Regions from separate parts of the Homo sapiens genome. Here region 1 is linked to region 2. Evidence: fine-mapped QTL for protein levels in blood plasma. A gene starts in region 2. The other region holds a variant in brackets. All regions are shown on one strand. Distances are between the middles of the regions.

Region 1 (10,533 bases), 31 kb before region 2:
ATTATCTTTAGTGAACTATAGAAAGTTTTCTTTATCTGGTGAAAATACACTGTAACATAATAACTTAGTAGATAACATGAGCCCTCTTGCATGGGAGAGCTTTTATACAACCAGAACCAGAAAATATGCATTGAAAATAACAATTGAATGAAATCTCATTATAAAATGTTTAAATGGACCAGCAGGTGACCAAGTGTACCTGAAGCTTTGATTGTTTTCCCAGGAATATGGGGCCAAACATTGGTTATAAATTCTTTTAACAATTTATAAGTCACCACACCAATATATTCCATTTGAATATTTTTATCTTTTCCATGATGAGTCATGGAATGCAGAACTTTTAATAATAAAAGCTTTAAGGACTTAGGAAGGACAAGGTGGCCATCCTGGTTCTCCATGAGTCCATGCTTAATTAATATTAGACTCATATCCTCTTGAATCATAGTTTTTCTTCAAATTATGTGCATAGCACTGATAACTGATGGGTTATCATAGGTAATTTGACTTAGACCATGACGTTCATTCAAATTGTATATCTAAGTAATTTTAATGTCAGCTGATGTAGCATGAGTGCTGATTGGTTAGGTAGGAGATGAAATCATGGGAAGTTGAAGCTGTCCTTTTTTGCTGAGTCAGTTCCTGAGTAGAGGTCACAAGATCAAATGACCCATTTTATCGATCTGGGTGGGGCCAGCTCATCCATCCATCAAGTGCAGGGTCTGCCAAATAGCTCAGACAGATCTCAGGAGCAGTTTAGAGAGGGTCAGAATCTTGTAGCCTCCAGCTGCATGACTCTTAAACCGTAATTTCTAATCTTGTGGCTAATTTGTTAGTCCCACAAAGGCAGTCTTGTCCCCAGGCAAGAAGGAGGTTCGTTTTGGGAAAGGGCTGTTATCGTCTTTGTTTTAAACTGTAAACTAAATTCCTATTAAAGTTAGTTCAGCCTATGCCCAGGACCGAACAAGGACAGCTTGGAGGTTAGAAGCAAGACGGTGTTCATTAGGTTAGGTTAGATCTCTTTCACTGTCTCAGTCATAATTTTGCCAAGATAGTTTGAGGAGAATCAAATTTTAAAGAAAGACACATAATAGTGTCACGGCTAGCCTTAAATATTCTCTTGACTAACTTACAGAGCAAAAATCTAGCCTTAAACAAAGTTAAGTTTTTTGTAATCTCAAATGACTTGCTTTAGATCTCCTGAGGCAATAAGGATTAAAGCCACTTCACCATGTCATCCAGTAGTTAAAATTCCACACTTTCACTGTTGCAGCCTGGATTCAATTACAAGTCAGAGAATGAACCGCTTTTGTTACAGGAAAAAGGTCCCAATCCATGCCCAAAGAGAGGATTCTTGGATCTTGCACGAGAAAGAATTCAGGGCAAGTCTGCAGCGCAAAGTAAAAGCAAGTTTATTAAGAAAGTAAAGTAGTGAAAGTACAGCTACTCCATAGTCACAGTAGGATGTTCTTGAAAGTAAGAGGAGGCACACACCCACCCTAGGTACAGTGCTCATATATATGGGGAGATGTACCCTGCTACAAAGGTTTGTGATAAGGATTAATTTTCTTAATTGTGATATTTTGCAAGAATCTAAGTTATTATCTTTAAAGCAAAATTAGGAATCACTTTGTTTTCCAGATATTGGGATATCTGGACACTCCCAAGTCTGGGTCTGTTTAGTAAATATTATTGATTTGTTCCCTTAACCATAAACATCTAGAGGCTAGGAATGCCTCACTTTCTGGAAATGCAGCCCAACAAGTCCCAGCCTCATTTTCCCAGCCCTCACTCAAGATGGAGTCACTCTACTTCAAATGCCTCTGCCACTTTTGTTTTGATATTTGTGTGATTTTTGAGTTTTTGTGGTACTCATTTACATCTTTGGAGATGTCTCATGCATCCTTGGCTAAGTCACAATTATGGTTAGTGCTTATCAGTTTCAGCTGGGAGGATACTTTTGGTTAAAAAAAAATTCAAAAGCCAGAAATATCAGCTGTTTGTCCTAGCTAAAATCTGATAATAAAAAATCTGAAAGTATTACAGTGGGTAGCTAGTCAGACATCAGCAGGACAGGAGGGAGCCTCCTTCCCCCACACACCAGGAATGTCATGACCATCAGGTGATTGTCAGGTGGTCGTTAACTGTCTCTCTAAAATAATAATGGGTTGTAGCTAGCACCAGGGAAAGGCAGTCTCCCAATAGACAGGAAACACCTGAAACAGTTGATCAGCTCCTTCCTGATAAGTTCTCAGAAGTTGGGTGAGTGGGCTAAAACATGTGCATTAAGAGGCAAAATGGTGGAGTTTAACTGGTTTGTGACCTCCCAGGGACATTTGACTGGAAAGAGAAGAACACCTCAAGTGAGCATGCATACAACTCCAGTAAATACACTGCGCATGTTCACCCCACCCCAAGTGCTAGCAGGCCACTGCACATGCAGACAGCCCACTCCAAAGGGAAAATAAGGGGAGAGGAGATGCAGACCCCAGAATTATGCCAACATACAAAAGCCTAAGTCAGAGGTCAAGCAATGCACTTGATCTCTTGTTGCCTGCTTGGCTTTTTTATTTTTTTATTTTTATTTATTTATTTTTTTGCAACAGAGTCTTGCTCTGTCACCCAGGCTAGAGTGCAGTGGCATGATCTCAGATCACTGCAACCTTCGCCTCCCAGGTTCAAATGATCCTCCCGCCTCAGCCTCCCTAGTAGCTGGGACTACAGGCACATGCTACCACACCCAGCTAATTTTTGTATTTTTGGTAGAGACGAAATTTCACCATGTTGGCCAGGTTGGTCTCAAACTCCTGACCTCAGGTGATCTACCCATCTCGGCCTCCCAAAGTGCTAGGATTACAAGTGTGAGTCACTGTATCCAGCCTGCTTGACTCTCTTTTAATTGTACTTTACTTCCTTTAATTCCTGCCTTAAAGCTTTTAAATAAACTTTTACTCCTGCTCTAACACTTACCTCAGTCCCTTCTTCTGCCTTATGCCTCTTAGTCAAATTACTTCTTCTAAAGAGGCAAGAATTGAGGTTGCTGAAGACGTCTACAGATTCACTGCTGCTAACATGCTTTGGTGTCATTTCTCAGCTATGTTTGGCAGCTAAGAGAAGGATTTCCCAAAACAGCTCTGTGATTAAGAGTCAGCTTAATTAAAAACTGGTATTTAAGCCATATATTTATTAATGGTATTTAAGCCATATAATTATTAATATTTATAATATTAAGCCATGTATATATTAAAATAATATATATATAAAATATTATATATATATAGAATATGTATATACACAGAATATATAAATTCATATTGGATATATATTGAGAAAGGACTTGAATGTATATTGAAGGCTTTTCTGCTTTTCTCTTTTGTATCTTTTTTTTTTTTTGAGACAGGCTGTCACTCTGTCACCCAGGCTTAAGTGCAGTGGCACAATCTCAGCTCGCTGCAACCTCCACCTCCTGGGTTCAAGGGATTCTTGGGCCTCAGCCTCTTGAGCAGCTGAGATTACAGGCACGTGCCACCACACCTGACTGATTTTTGTATTTTTACTAGAGACTGGGTTTCGCCATGTTGCTGGTCTTGAACTCCTGGCCTTGAGTAATCTGCCCGCCTCAGTCTCCCAAAGTGCTGCCATTACAGATGTGAGCCACTGCCTCTGGCCATCTCTTTTGTATCTTTGAAAGATTTTTTTTCAGTTGACTGAAATCTTTTTAAATCATGTGCTTAGTCTGTCTGGTTTTTTTCTTAAAAATTCTTTTTCTGCTTATTTCTCTTTCCATCCTTCCTCTTGCTATTCTTGATGCCACATGAGGGAACCTAAAGAATTTCTGACAGCCTGGAACCCCTTAAGGAAAACAGAAAAGATGCCACAGACTTCCCTATTTAGGAGAAACCACTGTTTTTCCTCATGGAACCCCAAGAGTTGTAAGTAAATGGATTCCTCTCAGGTCTAAAACTCTGCTCTCTTTTCCATTTTCCCTGACCTCTTTGGCTTTTGGGGGCATCAGAGATTACTTTGCACTGTAAAAATGCTTGACCTTATATGTGTGATGGCTGCTGGGTCACTGGTAAGAGCTTTGGTTTTGGAGGTGACTAACAGCGCTCGCAATAAATGATTATTACTTCAGAATGCTACTCATTTCTTTGCAAGTTTAGATAAGAAATACACAGTTTAAATAATTAGAAAAATGCCCTTATAGCAAAGTACACTGTGGAAGTGTTGCATAGTATGGTTCCATTGGCATTTTCCTCTTCTCAGGGACCTGGGATTCAGTGAAATCCTTGATTTATAAAGGTCTGGATGCTGTCCCTTG[C/T]AACTGGGTCTTCTTTTTATGTATTTAAATTATTAGGATCTAAAAGTTGCAAGACTTCGTTGGTCCTCTTCCTTAATGGGCTCTGTCCTGAGCTCAGTGGTCCAGTTGGAAAACAGAGACCAAATTAAAAGCTGCCTATCTAAATAAAATTGGTCTCCTTATAAAATCCTATGGTAAATTTCTGTCATTTTTGTGTTACCTTGGCATCTATTTTTAATCTTCCTTGAACACACACAAATTCCTTCTTGTAAAAGCTTTAGTTCTCTTTCTCTCTGTGCTTTGAGATGTAAATTTGCTACCAATTTTCTCTAAAACTCAATAAAGTCTGGCTTAATTAAATGTTAACCTCTTCCATTTACAAAGGCACAAATTTAATCCAACTGTCTTTTTTAAATACTGAATTTGATCGGTCCTATGCTGAAATCAAAACTCTAAACTCTTTCTGCCTCCCTCTATCTTTATGTGCACATGTGTATGTTATATGCTGTATCACATATATGTCTATGTCCATACATATGATTATATGTTGTTTACATACATGGTATCAAATTAATGTAAAAATAAGTACTCATAAATTAAGTAAATAATCCCAAATGCTTTTCAATACATGTGATTTTAGTAATCTTTGGTAAATAAAGATAGTTTAAAAATTATTGGTAAAATGAAGTAGAAATGTCTTCAGATTTAATTTAGACATTTGTGCCTGGGTCTGTTGGCAGACATTTTTATATTGTATTTACTAGATGTTTTAGGGTCATCATATGGTTGCTTCTGTATATATACATTTTCTTAATTTTTCTGTGACCTTATATCTTTAGATTTGAGCCTTTAGATTCTGAGTTCTAGATGAGCGACCATAGCAAGAACTGGGGACAAAACTCATCCCATCCCACAGCTGTGCCTTTTGGCCATGCTGGAAGAGATTAGATTCTCCAGGTATAATCTTCATAGCTTTGCTGTTTATCTTGGGCTTTACACCTGGTAACTAGTTAGAATTGCTTACTTCCTGTTTTTTCTCTCCTGAAAATAATGCTGTATTTGTTTGTTCTCACATTGCTACTGAGAAATACCTGAGACTGGGTAATTTATAAAGAAAAGAGGTTGAATTGGCTCATGGTTTGGCATGACTCTCACATTTGCTCAGCTTTTGAGGAGGCCTCGGGAAACTTACAATCATTGTGGAAGGCCAAGGCAGAACAAGGCATCTCACAGGTGAGAGCAGGAGGAAGACAGCAAGGGTTACACACTCTTAACCAGATCACCTGAGAACTCACTGTCACTAGGAAAGCACCAAGAGGAATGGTGTTAAACCATGAGAAACCATCCCCATAATCCAATCACCTTCAACCAGGCTCCACCTACAACTTTGGAGATTACAACTTGACATGAGATTTGAGTGGGAATATAAATCCAAAACATATCATTCTTTCCCTGGTTTCTCTCAAATCTCATGTCTTTCTTTTCATACGTGTCCGTGTGAAGAGACCACCAAACAGGCTTTGTGTGAGCAACATGGTTGTTTATTTCACCTGGGTGCAGGTGGGCTGAGTCCGAAAAGAGAGTCAGCAAAGGGAGATAGGGATGGGGCCATTTTATAGGATTTGGGAAGGTAATGGAAAATTACAGTCAAAGGGGGTTGTTCTCTGGTGGGCAGGGGCGGGGGTCACAAGGTGCTCAGTGGGGGAGCTTCTGAGCCAGGAGAAGGAAATTCACAGGGTTAATCACTCAGTTAAGGTGGGGCAGGAACAAATCACAATGGTGGAATGTCATCAGTTAAGGCGGGGCAGGGCCTTTTCACTTCTTTTGTGATTCTTCAGTAACTTCAGGCCATCTGGGCGTATACGTGCAAGTCACAGGGGATGCGATGGCTTGGCTTGGGCTCAGAGGACTGACATTCCTGCCTTCTTATATTAATAAGAAAAATAAAACAAAATAGTGTTGAAGTGTTGGGGTGGCGAAAATTTTTGGGGGGTGGTATGGAGAGAGAATGGGCGATGTTTCTCAGGGCTGCTTCAAGCGGGATTAGGGGCGGGTGGGAACCTAGAGTGGGAGAGATTAAGCTGAAAGGAGATCTTGTGGTAAGGGGTGATATTGTGGGGTTGTTAGAAGAAACATTTGTCATATAGTATGATTGGTGATGGCCTGGATACAGTTTTGTGTGAATTGAAAAACTAAATGGAATAAGAAGGAGAAAAACAGGTATAAAAGGTCTAAGAATTGGGAGGACCTAGGACATCTGATTAGAGAGTGCCTAAGGAGATTCAGCATAGTCCTGCCAGCAAAGATTATTTATTTACTTCAAGAGTTAAGAGTGGCAGTTTGGGGATAGCACGAGGAGATATCAGCTGTGATGGCTTGGAGAAACAGTGTAAACTGGCAGTGTGAACAAGAGCAGGGCATGTGTGAGTAGTTGAGAATGGAGAATAGGAATATGACTAGACAGAAAATAGTAGGGATGACAAGTTTTCTTGGGGGCACAGTCTAAGTTGGTCCAGTGTCTGGAATGAGACTGGGGCCTAATAAAAAGGAGCATCTATACAGGAGCTTAAATGGGCTGTACCTTGTAGCATTCTGAGGACAGGCCTGAATTCTGAGAAGTGAAAGTGGTAAAAGTATTGTCCAGTCCTTTTTAAGTTGGTGGCTGAGCTTGGTGAGGTGTGTTTTTAAAAGACCTTTAGTCCGTTCTACTTTTCTTGAAGACGGAGGACCGTAAGGGATATAAAGGTTTCACTGAATACTAAGAGCCTGAAAAACTAATTGGCTGATTTGACTAATAAAGGCTGGTCTGCTATCAGACTGTATAGAGGTGGGAAGGCTAAACTGAGGAATTATGTCTGACAGAAGGGAAGAAATGACTGTGGTGGCCTTCTCAGACCCTGTAGGAAAGGCCTTTACTTATTCAGTGAAAGTGTCTATTTAGACTAAGAGGTATTTTAGTTTCCTGACTCGGGCATGTTGAGTAAAGCTAATTTGCCAGTCCTGGGTGGGGGCAAATTCTCGAGCTTGATGTGTAGGGAAGGGAGGGGGCCTGAATAATCCCTGAGGAGTAGTAGAATAGCAGATGGAACACTGAGAAGTTATTTTCTTGAGGATAGATTTCCACGATGGAAAGGAAATGAGAGGTTCTGAGAGGCAGGCTAGTGGCTTGTACTATAGCATAGCCTGCATTTGCTGGTATGTGGCGATTAGGCCTGGTGGAACTGCCATCAATAAATCAAGCGTGATCAGGGTGAGGAATAGGAAAGAAGGAAATACAGGGAAATGGGGTGAATAGCAGGTGGATCAGAGAGATACAGTCATGGGGGTCAGGTGTGGTATCAGGAATAATGTGGGAGGCCAGATTGAAGTCCGGGCCAGGAACAGTGGTAATTGTGGGACTTAACAAAGAGTGAGTACAGCTGAAGGAGCCGGGGAGCAGAAAGTGTATGCGTCAGGTATGAGGAAGAAAATAGATTTTGGAAGTTGAGAAATGTAGAGAGTGAGTTGAGCATAGTTTGTGATTTTCAGGGCCTCTAAAAGTATTAAAGCAGCGGCAGCCGCTGCACACAGACATGAGGGCTAGGCTAAAACAGTAAGGTCAAGTTGTTTGGACAGAAAGGCTACAGGGTGCGGTCCTGGCTCTTGTGTAAGAATTCTGACCACACTAACCATGCCTAGGAAGGAAAGGAGTTGTTGTTTTGTAAGGGATTGAGGTTTGGGAGATTAATCAGACATGATCAGCAGGGAAAGCACGTGTGTTTTTGTGAGAATTATACCGAGATAGGTAACAGATGAGGATGAAATTTGGGCTTGACTGAGGTAATGGGGGCTGTCTGTGAAGCCTTGCGGCAGGACAGCCCAGGTAATTTGCTGAGCCTGATGGGTGTCAGGGTCAGTCTAAGTGAAAGCAAAGAGAGGCGGGGACGAGGGGTGCAGGGGAACAGTGAAAAAAGCATCTTTACGATCAAGCACGGAATAGTGAGTTGTGGAGGAAGGTATTGAGGACAAAAGAGTGTTCGGGTTGGGCACCACAAGGGGGATAGGCAAAACAATTTGGTTGATAAGGCACAGATCCTGAACTAACTTGTAAGTCTTGTCTGGTTTTAGGACAGGTAAAATGGGGGAATTGTAAGGAGAGTTTATAGGCTTTAAAAGGCCATGCTGTAGCAGGCGAGTGATAACAGGCTTTAATCCTTTTAAAGCGTGCTGTGGGATGGGATATTGGCGTTGAGTGGGGTAAGGGTGATTAGGTTTTAATGAGATGGTAAGGGGTGCATGATCAGTCGCCAAGGAGGGAGTAGAGGTGTCTTATACTTGTGGGTTAAGGTGGGGGGATACAAGAGGAGGACGCAAAGGAGGCTTTGGATTGGGAAGAAGGGCGGCAATGAGATATAGCTGTAGTCCAGGAATAGTCAGGGAAGCAGATAATTTACTTAAAGTGCCTCAGCCTAATAAGGGAACTGGGCAGGTGGGGATAACTAAAAAGGAGTGCTTAAAAGAGTAGTGTCTAAGTTGGCGCCAGAGTTGGGGAGTTTTAAGAGGTTTAGAAGCCTGGCTGTCAATACCCACAACAGTTATGGAGGCAAGGGAAACAGGCCCTTGAAAAGAAGGTAATGTGGAGTGGGTAGCCTCCGTATTGATTAAGAAGGGGATGGACTTACCCTCCACCGTGAGAGTTACCTAAAGCTCGGCGTCCGTGATGGTCTACGGGGCTTCTGAGGTGATCAGGCAGCGTCAGTCTTCAGCCGGTAAGCCAAGAAGGAGTCAGTCAGAGAGCCTTGGGCCCAGAGTTCCTTGGGCTCTGGGAGTGGCTGCCAGGTGAGTTGAACAGTCCGATTTTCAGTGGGGTCCCACACAGATGGGACGCGGCTTAGGAGGAATCCCAGGCTGCGGGCATTCCTTGGCCCAGTGGCCAGATTTCCGGCACGTGTAGCAAGCGCCTGGGGGAGGAGGTTCTGGAGGAACGCCTGGTTGCTATGGTTCAGGCGTTTGGAAGTTCTTGTGTGCTGGAGATGTGGCTGGGGTTTGTCTCACAGTGGAGGCAAGGAATTGCAACTTTTTTCTGTTATTGCACACCTTGAAGGTGAGGTTAATTAAGTCCTGTTGTGGGGTTTGAGGGCCAGATTCCAATTTCTGGAGTTTTATTTAATGTCGGGAGCAGATTGGGTAATAAAATGTATATTGAGAATAAGATGGCCTTTTGACCTTTTAGGGTCTAGGGCTATAAAGCGTCTCAGGGTTGCTGTCAAACGAGCCATGAACTGGGCTGGATTTTTATACTTGATGAAAAAGAGCCTAAACGCTATCTGATTTGGGATAAAGAAAAAGGAGCATTAACCTTGACTATGCCTTTAGCTCCAGCCACCTTTTTAAGAGTAAATTGCTAGGCAGGTGGGGAAGGGCTAGTCACGGAACGAAACTGTAAGCCGGACCAGGTGTGAGGAGGGGAGGCAATAAAAAGATTACAGGGTGGAGGAGCGGAGGCTGAGGAAGAATTGGGACCTAGCTTGGCCTGGCAAGGAGGGGAGAGGTCAGATGGGTCTGTAGAAAAGGAAGATTAGAAAGACTCAGCGACGCTTGGGGTTGGGACTGAGGGGACAGGCGGGAGATTTGGGACGAGTTGCACTGGGCACAGAGACTAGGAAGGGACTGATGTGTAAAAGAATGCCTGGACGTCAGGCACCTCAGACCATTTGCCCATTTTACGACAAGAATTATTTAGATCTTATAGGATGGAAAAATTGAAAGTGCCGTTTTCTGGCTATTTGGAACTACTGTCCAGTTTGTATTGGGGTCAAGCGGCATTGCAGAAGAAAATGAGATGCTTAGATTTTAGGTCAGGTGAGAATTGAAGAGGTTTTAAGTTCTTAAGAATACAGGCTAAGGAAGAAGAAGGAGGAATGGAAGGTGGAAGCTTGCCCATAGTGAAGGAGGCAAGCCCAGAGAAAAGAGTAGAGACATGGAGAAGGGGTGGGGGTTTCTTGCCCACCAGAAAAGCAGAGAAAGGGTCGGAGCATGGAAATAAGGGATTGGGGTGCAGACATAAGAGGTTGGGGCATGGAAGTAAGGGATTGGGGCACAGAGATAACAGGTTGGGGCGCGGAAATAAGCAATTGGGGCACAGAGATAAGAGGTTGGGGCATGGAAATAAGCGATTGGGGCGCAGAGATAAGAGGTTGGGGCATGGAAATAAGCGATTGGGGGGTTCTTGCCCCCTAGGAAAGCGGGACTTACCG
Region 2 (10,533 bases):
GCACATGCCATCATGCCCAGCTAATTTTTGTATTTTTAGTAGAGACAGGGTTTCACCATGTTGGCCAGGCTGGTCTCGAACTCCTGACCTCAGGTGATCCACCCACCTCTGCCTCCCAAAGTGCTGGGATTACAGGCATGAGACACCACACCCAGCCAGGCCTATGAAAATCTTTAAGTGTAACTTTTCATTAAGTGCCATAGATCCCTCCTCTTTATAACATAAAGTCCTGTAAACTGCATGCAGGTCAGTTTGCCATAGGAATAATTTGTCTTTGCTGGAACATGCTGGGTGCTTGGCAGATGAAGAGATTGGAAGTGAACCACTGAGATGACTGATGAGCGTCCTCAGCAGGCTGTGTTGCAGGGGGAAGAGTGCAGGTTGTTTATAAGGCCTGGGTCGTGCCCCTGGCCACCATTTCCTGGCTTTGTGACTCCAGCTTTACTTCTCCTTCCCAGGGCTCAGTTTTCCTCTCCTTGAAGGGGATGAGTGGAACCAGCTCTGGACGCTGAGCTGCCTGGGTGTAAAGGCTTCCTGTAATGGGCAGAAGAGTGGATAGGAGGGCAGCAGGGGAGCTGGACCAAAAGCATCATGTGATTTGCCGTGATCACAGAGGATTTTCTGGAAGTAGCTTGGGCACAATGTGTGCAAGGAGACAGAAGGGTCTCGTGGTGGGGAATAGGACATTCACACAGCCTCCTCCATGGCTTACCTCACACAGCAGTTGTTAATTAGCCAAGAATTTGACAAACAGGCATTAAAGGCCTTCTGAATGTGACACACGACACCCAGCTAGAAGAATATTGCCAAAAATCATTAAAACTACTCTAATCATAGTCTGAGTCAGACACATCCAGGTGGTGGAAGACTTTACAAAAAAAAAAGAAGTGAACCATTGCTTTCAATGACATTAAAGAAAATGAAAGGCAGGTGGGGAGCACTCCTAGATTAAAGGGGAGTCCAGAGATGAGATGTAAACCAAAAGGTATCTGAGACAGGTCTCCATCAACTTAGAAGCTTATTTTGCCAAGGTTAAGGACATAGAAAAAACCATGCAATCATAGAAACAGTCTGTGGTCTGTGCCTTTTTCCAAAGATAATTTTGAGGACTTCAATATTTAGGGTGGAAAAGCTGGCTGGCGGTGAAAGAAGGAGGGTGTGGTCGCATTACTGAATCCACATGGTGTAAGAGAAAGCAGGAGGTAGGGGAATAATCAATCACGTATTCATCTCACGCTCAGTAAATTGGCACCTTGAGAAAGATAAGGTGAATATGGCCGGGCGTGGTGGCTCACACCTGTAATCCCAGCACTTTGAAAGGCTGAGGTGGGAGGATCTCATGAGCCCAGGAACTTGAGACCAGCATGGACAACATGGCAAAACCCATCTCTACAAAAAAAACCACAAAAATTAGCTGGGCGCGGTGGTGGGTGCCTGTAGTCCCAGCTACACGGGAGGCTGAGGTGACAGAATGACTTGAGCCCGGGAGACAGAGGTCGCAGTGAGCCAAGATCGTGCCACTGCGCCCCAGCTTGGGAGACAAAGTATGATACTCTCTCAAAAAAAAATAAATAAGTAAAAATTTTTTTAAAGAAAGATAAGATGAACATAGAGTAGCTACCTACGGAGATACTTAACCTTTTCTCTGTAGCTGTCTGCTTAGGAACAAAAGGAAAGGCAGTTTCTTGCATGACTCAGCTTCCAGTTTTTTTTTTTTCCTTCTGTCACAGTGAATTGGGGTCCTGAGTTTTTGTTTCTCTTTCATAAAGACAACGCAGTGCAGTTCATGCTTGACCCCGGATGTTCTCCTGATCAGAAAGCAAAAACGCAATGAGAGATGTCATTGGGACAACAGAGGAAAACTGGAAATGGGCTTCCTATTAGACAACAGTGCATCTGTGTAAACTACACGGGTCTGATCCTGGTCTGTGGTTACGCAGGACAAAGTCCTTAAGAATAATCTATATAGGCTGGGCGTGGTGGCTCACACCTGTAATCCTAGCACTTTGGGAGGCCGAGGCAGGTGGATCACCTGAGGTCAAGAGCTCAGGACCAGCCTGGTCAACATGGTGAAACCCTGTCTCTACTATAAATACAAAAATTAGCCGGACGTGGTGGCAGGCGCCTGTAATCCCAGCTACTCGGGAGGCTGGGACAGGAGAATTGCTTGAACCTGGAGGGCGGAGGTTGCAGTGAGCAGAGATCACGACACTTCACTCCAGCTTGGGTGAGAGAGCAAAACTGCATCTAAAAAAAAAGAGAGAGAGAGGAAAAAAAAGAATGATATATGCTTTTTAAAAATTTTTTTATTTATTTATTTTTTGTGATGGAGCCTGGCTCTGTCACCCAGGCTGGAGTGCAGTGGTGTGATCTCGGCTCACTGCTGCAACCTCCACCACCAGCTTCAAGTGATTCTCCTGCCTCAGCCTCCCAAGTAGCTGGGATTACAGTTGTGTGTCACCATGTCCAGCTAATTTTTATATTTTTAGTAGAGATGGGGTTTCACCATGTTGGCCAGGCTGGTCTTGAACTCCTGACTTAAAGTGATCCTTCCAAAGTGCTGGGATTACAGGTGTGAGTCACTGTGCCCAGCCCCCTTAAGAATAATCTTAAGAAGGTTCTTGCTGAAGCACTTAGTGGTGAGAGTTACAATGTCTACTCCTTGTTTTTAAAATTTAAGAATATTTTAAAAGCATATGTTGTGTGTGTATAAACAGATACAATAAAATGTGAAGAGTGGGTGAATCCAGTGAAGGGGATACTTGTGTTCACTGTACTATCCTTGCAACTTTTCTGCCGGTTTGAAATTTTTCCGTCTTTTTTTTTGAGATGGAGTCTTACTCTGTTGCCCAGGCTGGAGTGCAGTGGTGCGATCTCGGCTCACTGCAACCTCTGCCTCTTGGGTTCAAGCGATTCTCCTGTCTCAGTCTCCGGAGTAGCTGGGACTACAGGTGGCTGCCACTACACCGGGCTAATTTTTGTATTTTTTTTTTAAGTAGAGATGGGGTTTCACCGTGTTGTCCAGGTTGGTTTCAATCTCCTGACTTCAATAGATCCACCCGCCTTGGCTTCCCAAAGTGCTAGGATGACTGGTATGAGTCACCGCTCCCAGCCTGAAATTTTTCAAAATGAAAACACCGCAGGTCAGGAGTTTGAGACCAGCCTGAACAACATAGTGAAACCCTGTCTCTATTGAAAATACAAAAATTAACCAGACATGGTGGTGTGCACCTGTAGTCCCAGTTACTCGGGAGGCTGAGGTGGGAGAGTTGCTTGAGTCCAGGAGATGGAGGCTGTAGTGACCTGCAGTGAGCTACAACTGCACCACTGTACTCCAGCATAGGTGAGAGCAAGACTCTGTTTCTAAAAAAAAAAAAAAATTACTGGGCATGTACTGTATGCCATGTAGGTGGTGGAGACATAGCAGGAGATCAGACAAACACTTCCCTGTCTGTGTGGCAAATATTAAACTTGCAATAAACTTGCAAAGACAAATAAAGATAAAATTTATAGAGATGTCAAAAATAAACATATAATTGCAAGTCACATTCATTTCTCTTTCTCTGCTATTCCTGCTCTCGCCTTCCCTCTTCTGCTTCTCCTCTCTCCGTCACAGACACCCACAACGTCCCTCTGCAGTCACTGACAGATACCCCAGGTTCCTTCCTGTCTTCCTCCCCGCCACCCCAGTGTGTTACAGCTGATTTGTACAGCCCTGGACAAGCCCATGGTTAAATAGCTAGGGATTTCATCAGCCTGGTTGGCAAACTGTAGGTAGCTTAAAATCAGACATGCTATGAGTATTTACACCAGAGAAATAGGCCAACACTACGAGGCAGGATTTGTGGGTATTGTTTTTCAGAAAACTTGGTTTTTCAGCACAACACTGCTCTCCCATCGGCTTCCAGCAAATAAATGTTGCATTTTTCAGATATATCCTAATTCTTTCATAGATATTCAGTCTCTACTCCACCTCTGGCCAAGCCTTTCCTGGTGGTAGGAAACTGGGGACTTGAGTCCTATGTTGTACTGTGAGGGTAGAGAATAGAAGAGAAAGCATGAGAGAAAAGCATGAAAAGAAGAATCAAAAGAAAGCAATATAAGAAGGAAAGAGAAAGAACAGAGAAGTGGGAAGACAGTGGAGGGTAGAAACTAGGACCGGAAGACATGGGGACAAGCTGATGCCCACTGCACAACGTCCTCACAGGTAGTTGGGCCATTTCCCCATCTGGGGTACAGAGGTGGCCAGGGAGCCCATGAGAAATGAGGAAACTGCCTTCCCAAACTACTGGAGAAAGAGGGTGGGGGTGGTGATCCACATAGCTGGGCTCAGGAGGAAAGAGGGCTGGGAGTCTGGACCGGGGGAACCTCGGGTCAAGATGCCACAGTTTCTAACTATGGAGGGCCTGGGGGCCTGGACTCCTGGGTCTGAGGGAGGAGGGCCTGGGGGTCTGGACTCCTGGGTCGGAGGGAGGAGGGCCTCGGGGCCTGGACTCCTGGGTCTGAGAGAGGGAGGCCTGGGGCCTGGACTCCTGGGTCTGAGGGAGGAGGGGCTGGGGGGCTGGACTCCTGGGTCTGAGGGAGGAGGCACTGGGGGCCTGGACTCCTGGGTCTGAGGGAGGAGGGACTGGGGGCCTGGACTCCTGGGTCTGAGGGCGGAGGGGCTGGGGGTCTGGACTCCTGGGTCTGAAGGAGGAGGGGCTGAGGGGCTGGGGGTCCTGGACCCTCCATCTGAGGGAGGAGGGGCTGGATGCCTGGACCCGAAGGTCTGAGGAAGAAAGGGGGTCCCTGATAGGCCACTGCGGCCATTGAGACTTGGGGTGGGGCCCAAGCCTCCATTTTGCAAGGCCCTCCCCTCCCCACCCTTTTCTGGGCTGGCTGCTTAAGGGCTGGTATAAAGGACTTGTTTCCTGCTGAAAAAGCAGAAAGAGATTACCAGCCACAGACGGGTCATGAGCGCGGTATTACTGCTGGCCCTCCTGGGGTTCATCCTCCCACTGCCAGGTGAGTGATGAGCCCAGCCTGGAGGAGATTCCCTGGAGGCCGGGCAAGGGAACCCTGCTGAGATGGATTTGCTCTTGCCACTCCAGGAGTGCAGGCGCTGCTCTGCCAGTTTGGGACAGTTCAGCATGTGTGGAAGGTGTCCGACCTGCCCCGGCAATGGACCCCTAAGAACACCAGCTGCGACAGCGGCTTGGGGTGCCAGGACACGTTGATGCTCATTGAGAGCGGTGAGAAGGCCCTGGCGTGCAGAGACCCCGCCCTGTCCCCTCAGTCCCTTGATCCCTGTGCAGGGACCCGGGAGCCACCCCTCCGGGGGATCGACTCCTAGGGTCCCGGTGATCCCCTTTCCAGCCTCTCAGCCTACGCCGTGTAGCAGCGTCTCCCTCCAGGACCCTGGAGGCCTGACCTCCATCCTCGCTTGCCTCCCTCTTTCGGTCCAGGACCCCAAGTGAGCCTGGTGCTCTCCAAGGGCTGCACGGAGGCCAAGGACCAGGAGCCCCGCGTCACTGAGCACCGGATGGGCCCCGGCCTCTCCCTGATCTCCTACACCTTCGTGTGCCGCCAGGAGGACTTCTGCAACAACCTCGTTAACTCCCTCCCGCTTTGGGCCCCACAGCCCCCAGCAGGTGCCTGCGGGAGGGTCGGGAGGAGAGGGAGGGGCTGCTAGAAGGGGATCCGCTGAGCACAGAGGGGCTGTTACGGAGTCCCTCCCACCCTCGCTCGCTATCCCGACCCTCGCTGGCTCCATCCCTCCCCTGACTGCTCCCTGACCATCGCCCCGCCCCGCTCCCTTTCCATCCCTCCCCACTCACTCCCGATCCCTCCCACCGACCTGCCACCCGGGAATCCCCGCACCCCTCCTCTTCTAAGAGCAAACAGGACGGATTTCTGATATGAAATCACCATTAACTGGGTTATCCTGCATTCTTTTTTTATTCTGTTGCGTTTGGTTCAAGAAGTTCTCCTGCAGGGTTTTTGCTATTTCCTCTTCCTAAGGGAGACTGAACTGTAACTTTCCACTTTCCTTGTCTGGTGTTATAAAGAGTCTAGGGAGATATTTTGCGCTTCTTTTATTGGAACAGCTTGTGAACACAGAAGTCTCCTGTTCTTGGAGGTTTAGTAGCGCTTGCAGGTGAAGGCACTGGCTCGTTCCAGGGCACCCCCTCATTCCCTTGACCAATGAGTCTGCTTCTGTGTCTCCCCTCGGAAGGCCAGACTTTGTTGAAAGGTTCAGACTTGACCATGTCTGAGTCTACATTTGGCCTCAGCAGGCCCCTCCTCCACCCTGCCCACCCCCCACCCCCACTTGCCACCCAAGACACCCCCCCTTTTCTTTTCTTTTTTTTTTTTTTTTTTTTTTTTTCTGAGAAAGCGTCTCGCTGTGTCGACCAGGCTGGAGTGCAGTGGCGCAATCTCGGCTCACTGCAACCTCCGACTCCCGGGTTCAAGCGATTCTCCTGCGTCAGCCTCCCACGTAGCAGGGACTAGAGGAGCCTGCCACCACGCCCGGCTAATTTTTGTATTTTTAGTAGAGACAGGGTTTCACTATGTTGCCCAGGCTGGTCTTGAACTCCTGACCTCGTGATCCACCTGCCTCAGCCTCCCAAAGTGCTGGGATTACAGGTGTGAGTCACCACACCCAGCCAAGACCACTTTCTGTACCCAGCCCTGGGTGCCTCTACCCAGACCTCCTGTTCATTCTCCCTTCCTCTTTTATGGATTACACTTCTTTATTTTCCCACATCCAGATCCCATGATGGGAGCTGCAGAAGGCCCCTTTGGGAAGGCTGAGCAGGTTGACTCTTGAGGCCAGCAAAAGTGGGGTGCAGAGAAGGTATCTGATCAAATCCAGTGCCCTCTCAGTGCCCCCTCACTCTGTCTGTCACTTTCCTAGACCCAGGATCCTTGAGGTGCCCAGTCTGCTTGTCTATGGAAGGCTGTCTGGAGGGGACAACAGAAGAGATCTGCCCCAAGGGGACCACACACTGTTATGATGGCCTCCTCAGGCTCAGGGGAGGTAAGCCTGGGACATCGGGGTCCCTGTGGGGACTGAACTGGAAGGTCTGGGGACTGAGATCTTAGGCTTTGGGGAGTGAGGTGAGCTGAGGCACGGCATGAGACCCAGAGGAGGGTGGGCCTGGCTTCCTGGAGCTATGCCTGCCTCTGAGGGTTGGGTGGTCCTGGAGGCAGCATCACTGACTCTCCCTCGCTCCCCCTTTCTGCAGGAGGCATCTTCTCCAATCTGAGAGTCCAGGGATGCATGCCCCAGCCAGTTTGCAACCTGCTCAATGGGACACAGGAAATTGGGCCCGTGGGTATGACTGAGAACTGCGATATGAAAGGTGAGTCCTGCCCCTAGGCTGTGCCCTGGACTGCAGCCTCGGGGCACGATGACACATGGGGCATCCAGAGCCATCACACCAAAGCCAGCAGGAGGAAGGTCAAGGGTGCAGGGTGGGTTGCTTGGCATGTGGCTTTAGGCAACAGTGAGTGCTGGGGCCCCTGCTGGCTCTCAAGCTGCTGAGAGTGACTGGTTGCTTCAATTTCTGTGTCTCCACACCCCTGGCCTTGGGTAACCCTAGGTCTCCCACTTCCCTAGGCCACCGTAGCCTCTCTCCCACCCGTATCAGCCCCCGCCCCGCTCATGGTGCTGGAGTGCCCCAGCAGCCTTGCCTGCACAGGAGAGAACATCAGAGAGAAAATCAAGGGGACTTTGGGTGTGACAGAGAAAGCAAGAGTTAAAGGAGGACACTGAGAGGGTCCCCACTTACCCATTTAGGTGCTGCCATGGAAGAGAGTGCCAGGGAATGTCTCCATAAGAAGGGCTCCAAAGCAACAGGAAGCCATGGTGGGGAGGTGGGGGTCTTATAGGAATCCCAGCTTCCCTCCTAGAAGCAAAGTCTTCCCTGCCCCTGCCTCAGTTTCCTTGTCTGCCCACATCACGCTAACCCTTAGAGCTTAGAAGAGAGAGTTGTGTGAGCTCTGCACACATTCCTCTGTGTATTTGGCTGTTTCTCCCTAGCTAGGCTGGGAGCCTGAGGCTAGGGGCTTGGTACCACTGGCACCAGGGTTTCCAGCCTTGGGTAGCTCAGGAGACGGCTCAGGAAGGGTACCAGGAGGTGTTTGCTCAAGTGAGGACATGCAGGGCTCACTTGAGCAAAGCTCCCTCATGAGTCAGACCCTGTTTCTACCTGAAGGGCCTCCAGGACTAGGAGGGGGAGGTGCTACAGACACAGATGGTCACAGCTTGAGGTGATCAGGGCTGTGGCAAACGGGGATGTGGGGCCTGGGGCAGCTCAGAGGAGGAAAATACTGATGTTGTTGGGGTAGAGAGTCAAGGAGGGCTTTACAGAGGAGGTGGCCTGTGAACCGTGTGTTAAAGATGACCTACAGCTTATTGGTAGAAGAGGAAGAGGACATTGGTGGCAGAGGGAACAGTGTGTAGCAGCTGCATAGGCCTGGAGGTGGGAGTGAGCCTGCTGTTTTCAAGAAGAGTCCCTCACTCCACCTGAGAAGGACTCATCAAGATGAGGGGGTACAGCTGGGATTGGGGGTGATTCGAAGTTTTCCAGGTGGACAAGGTGGGTGTGGGGTCGAAGAGGGAGCTGCTCCAAGCCAAAGGCACAGCAGGTGTGAGGCTGAGGAGGAAATGAACTGGCATGCCTTCAGAATGGATACTGGTGGGGGAGGAAGAGTTAAGTGGGGAACCTGGTGGTCGCTCAAGTACCTGAAAACCCAGGCTGAGGGGTGGACCCTCTCCTGAAGGCAGGGGAGCCATGGAAGATTGTGGAGCAGGGAGGGCAGGGTCTGAGCCATTTATCTTTCCTTTTGACTGATGCTGCTGTTAAGGATCTGGCCCTGGTCTCTGGGACCAGATGACACTGATAACCCAGAAGGTATTTCAGAAACAAATCAGACGCAACACATGCCACACACACAGCCCACAATAAGCACAGCAGACACGAATGCGTCACACCATGACACATACACACCACACATCACATACCACACACACACTCCCCCATACCCCTGACATACCACCTATGGAACACAAATCACACACAGAGCACACAATATGCACAACACACACAAATGCATCACACGAGTGCACAATTACTACGTGTACATGTAGTGTGTATGCCACATACTACACGTCAGGTACCACACACACTCTCCCTCTCAACATATCAGACATGCAATACATACCACACACAACACACAATACACACAACACATCTGGCATGCCACACACACCACATGCAAGCAAAACACAGATACACAGAACACACACCACACCAAACACACAAAACAAACACATACCACATATATCACACACAGTATGTCTACACATGCACGCACCACACAAACATACCATGAACACACCACACACCCCATACAACCACACCCCCCACATGTATACTACGCACTCACACACAGCACACATACCTGCACACATCACGCATGTGCACACACTACACAAACGCACCACATAAAACACAGCGACTATGCACCAATCAGTGCTGTTCATAGAGATTCATCTGCTTTCAACACTGGAGCCAGATCTTGCAGGCTGTTTTGCCTCCCTGGTGAAGTGCAGTTCAGCAGTTTAGCAGACAGTGAGCATCACAAGACCAGGCATCAGAAACTGGGGGAACAACAAGACGTTGGGGACCAAGTGCAGGAGAGAAGAGGCTTCAGGGTGATGGAACCGCTTATAAGAAGCCGCAGCAGTGGGAGGGCTGGGTGCAAGGATGCAGGTTACTAAAAGGGGCCATGGCAGCAGCCCCTTGTGAAGAACCAAGGGGCCCGGGCAGATAAGGCCCTGGCTGCCCCTAGAGGAGCTGGGCAGCGGTCCCAGTGAGAGAGCAGGGAAGAGCCCACGTCTGAATCAGGGACACGTGGGTCCCAGGCCCAGCTCTGCCGCCGAAACAGCTTTCCAGCCTCAGCTTCACACGAGGATCAAAAGTCTCCATATCTCATGGAGCCTCTTTCCCTGGATTTGGGGAAGAGGAGGGGATGGTTGCAGACATGGGACGGAAGCAGATGCAAAGACCATGATGTGGGTGAGTGCCTGCCAGAAACACCTGTGCGGAGCAGAGTGATGGAGGGAGCAGGGAGGCGGCCGCGTCTTATCAGGCCTCCCGGGCCATTGGAAGGGCTTAGAATTTTATTCTCCAGAATGGGGACCTCCTGGAGTCTTCGGAGCAGAGGAGTGACATGAACTGACTTAGGTTTACCTAGCCTCCCTCTGCCTGCTGGGTGGAGAATGGAGCGAGAGGAACAGTGACAGGCGGGTGCAGGGATTGCCCCAGGAGTCAGGTGGGAGTGAAGCGGGGGGCTTGGAGGCAGCAGAGGTGGTGACGTGGGGTTGGGTTTTGAAGATTTTCTGCAGCTCAAGCCAGTAGGATTACTTGAGGAACACAATGTGGGAGAGAAAGAGCGTGGTCAAGGACAACACCAATGTGTTCAGCTAGACTGGCAGAAACGAGCCGCCACGGGTGTAAGTAGGGGAGATGGGAGTGGGGAGAG

Alleles and levels. Positions count from the first base shown, and alleles are read on the strand shown. Strength reflects both the effect of a copy and how common the allele is.
For the plasma level of the protein whose gene starts at base 4,924 in region 2, allele C in region 1 goes with a lower level than allele T (strong association).

The links. PIP is the chance, under the fine-mapping model, that this variant and not a neighbour inherited with it causes the effect. The UK Biobank Pharma Proteomics Project read protein levels with antibody pairs (Olink). The fine-mapping took linkage between variants from a reference panel, not from the people measured, so its PIPs are less certain.
Region 1: its variant is fine-mapped to the plasma level of the CD177 protein (UK Biobank, PIP above 0.99).

Annotation. Positions count from the first base shown.
Region 1 is chr19:43,317,733-43,328,265 of GRCh38, forward strand. No RefSeq gene overlaps it. Among named protein-coding and RNA genes, the nearest start is that of LINC03078, 8.5 kb to the right of the region's middle. The variant C/T (reference allele first, on the strand shown) is at 4,319.
Region 2 is chr19:43,348,763-43,359,295 of GRCh38, forward strand. It overlaps CD177 (CD177 molecule), which reads left to right and starts at 4,924. Exons shown (of 9, transcript NM_020406.4): 1 at 4,924-5,004; 2 at 5,091-5,231; 3 at 5,445-5,630; 4 at 6,899-7,021; 5 at 7,230-7,346. The coding sequence starts at 4,953. PRG1 (p53-responsive gene 1) reads left to right here and starts at 294. Exons shown (of 1, transcript NR_026881.1): 1 at 294-786.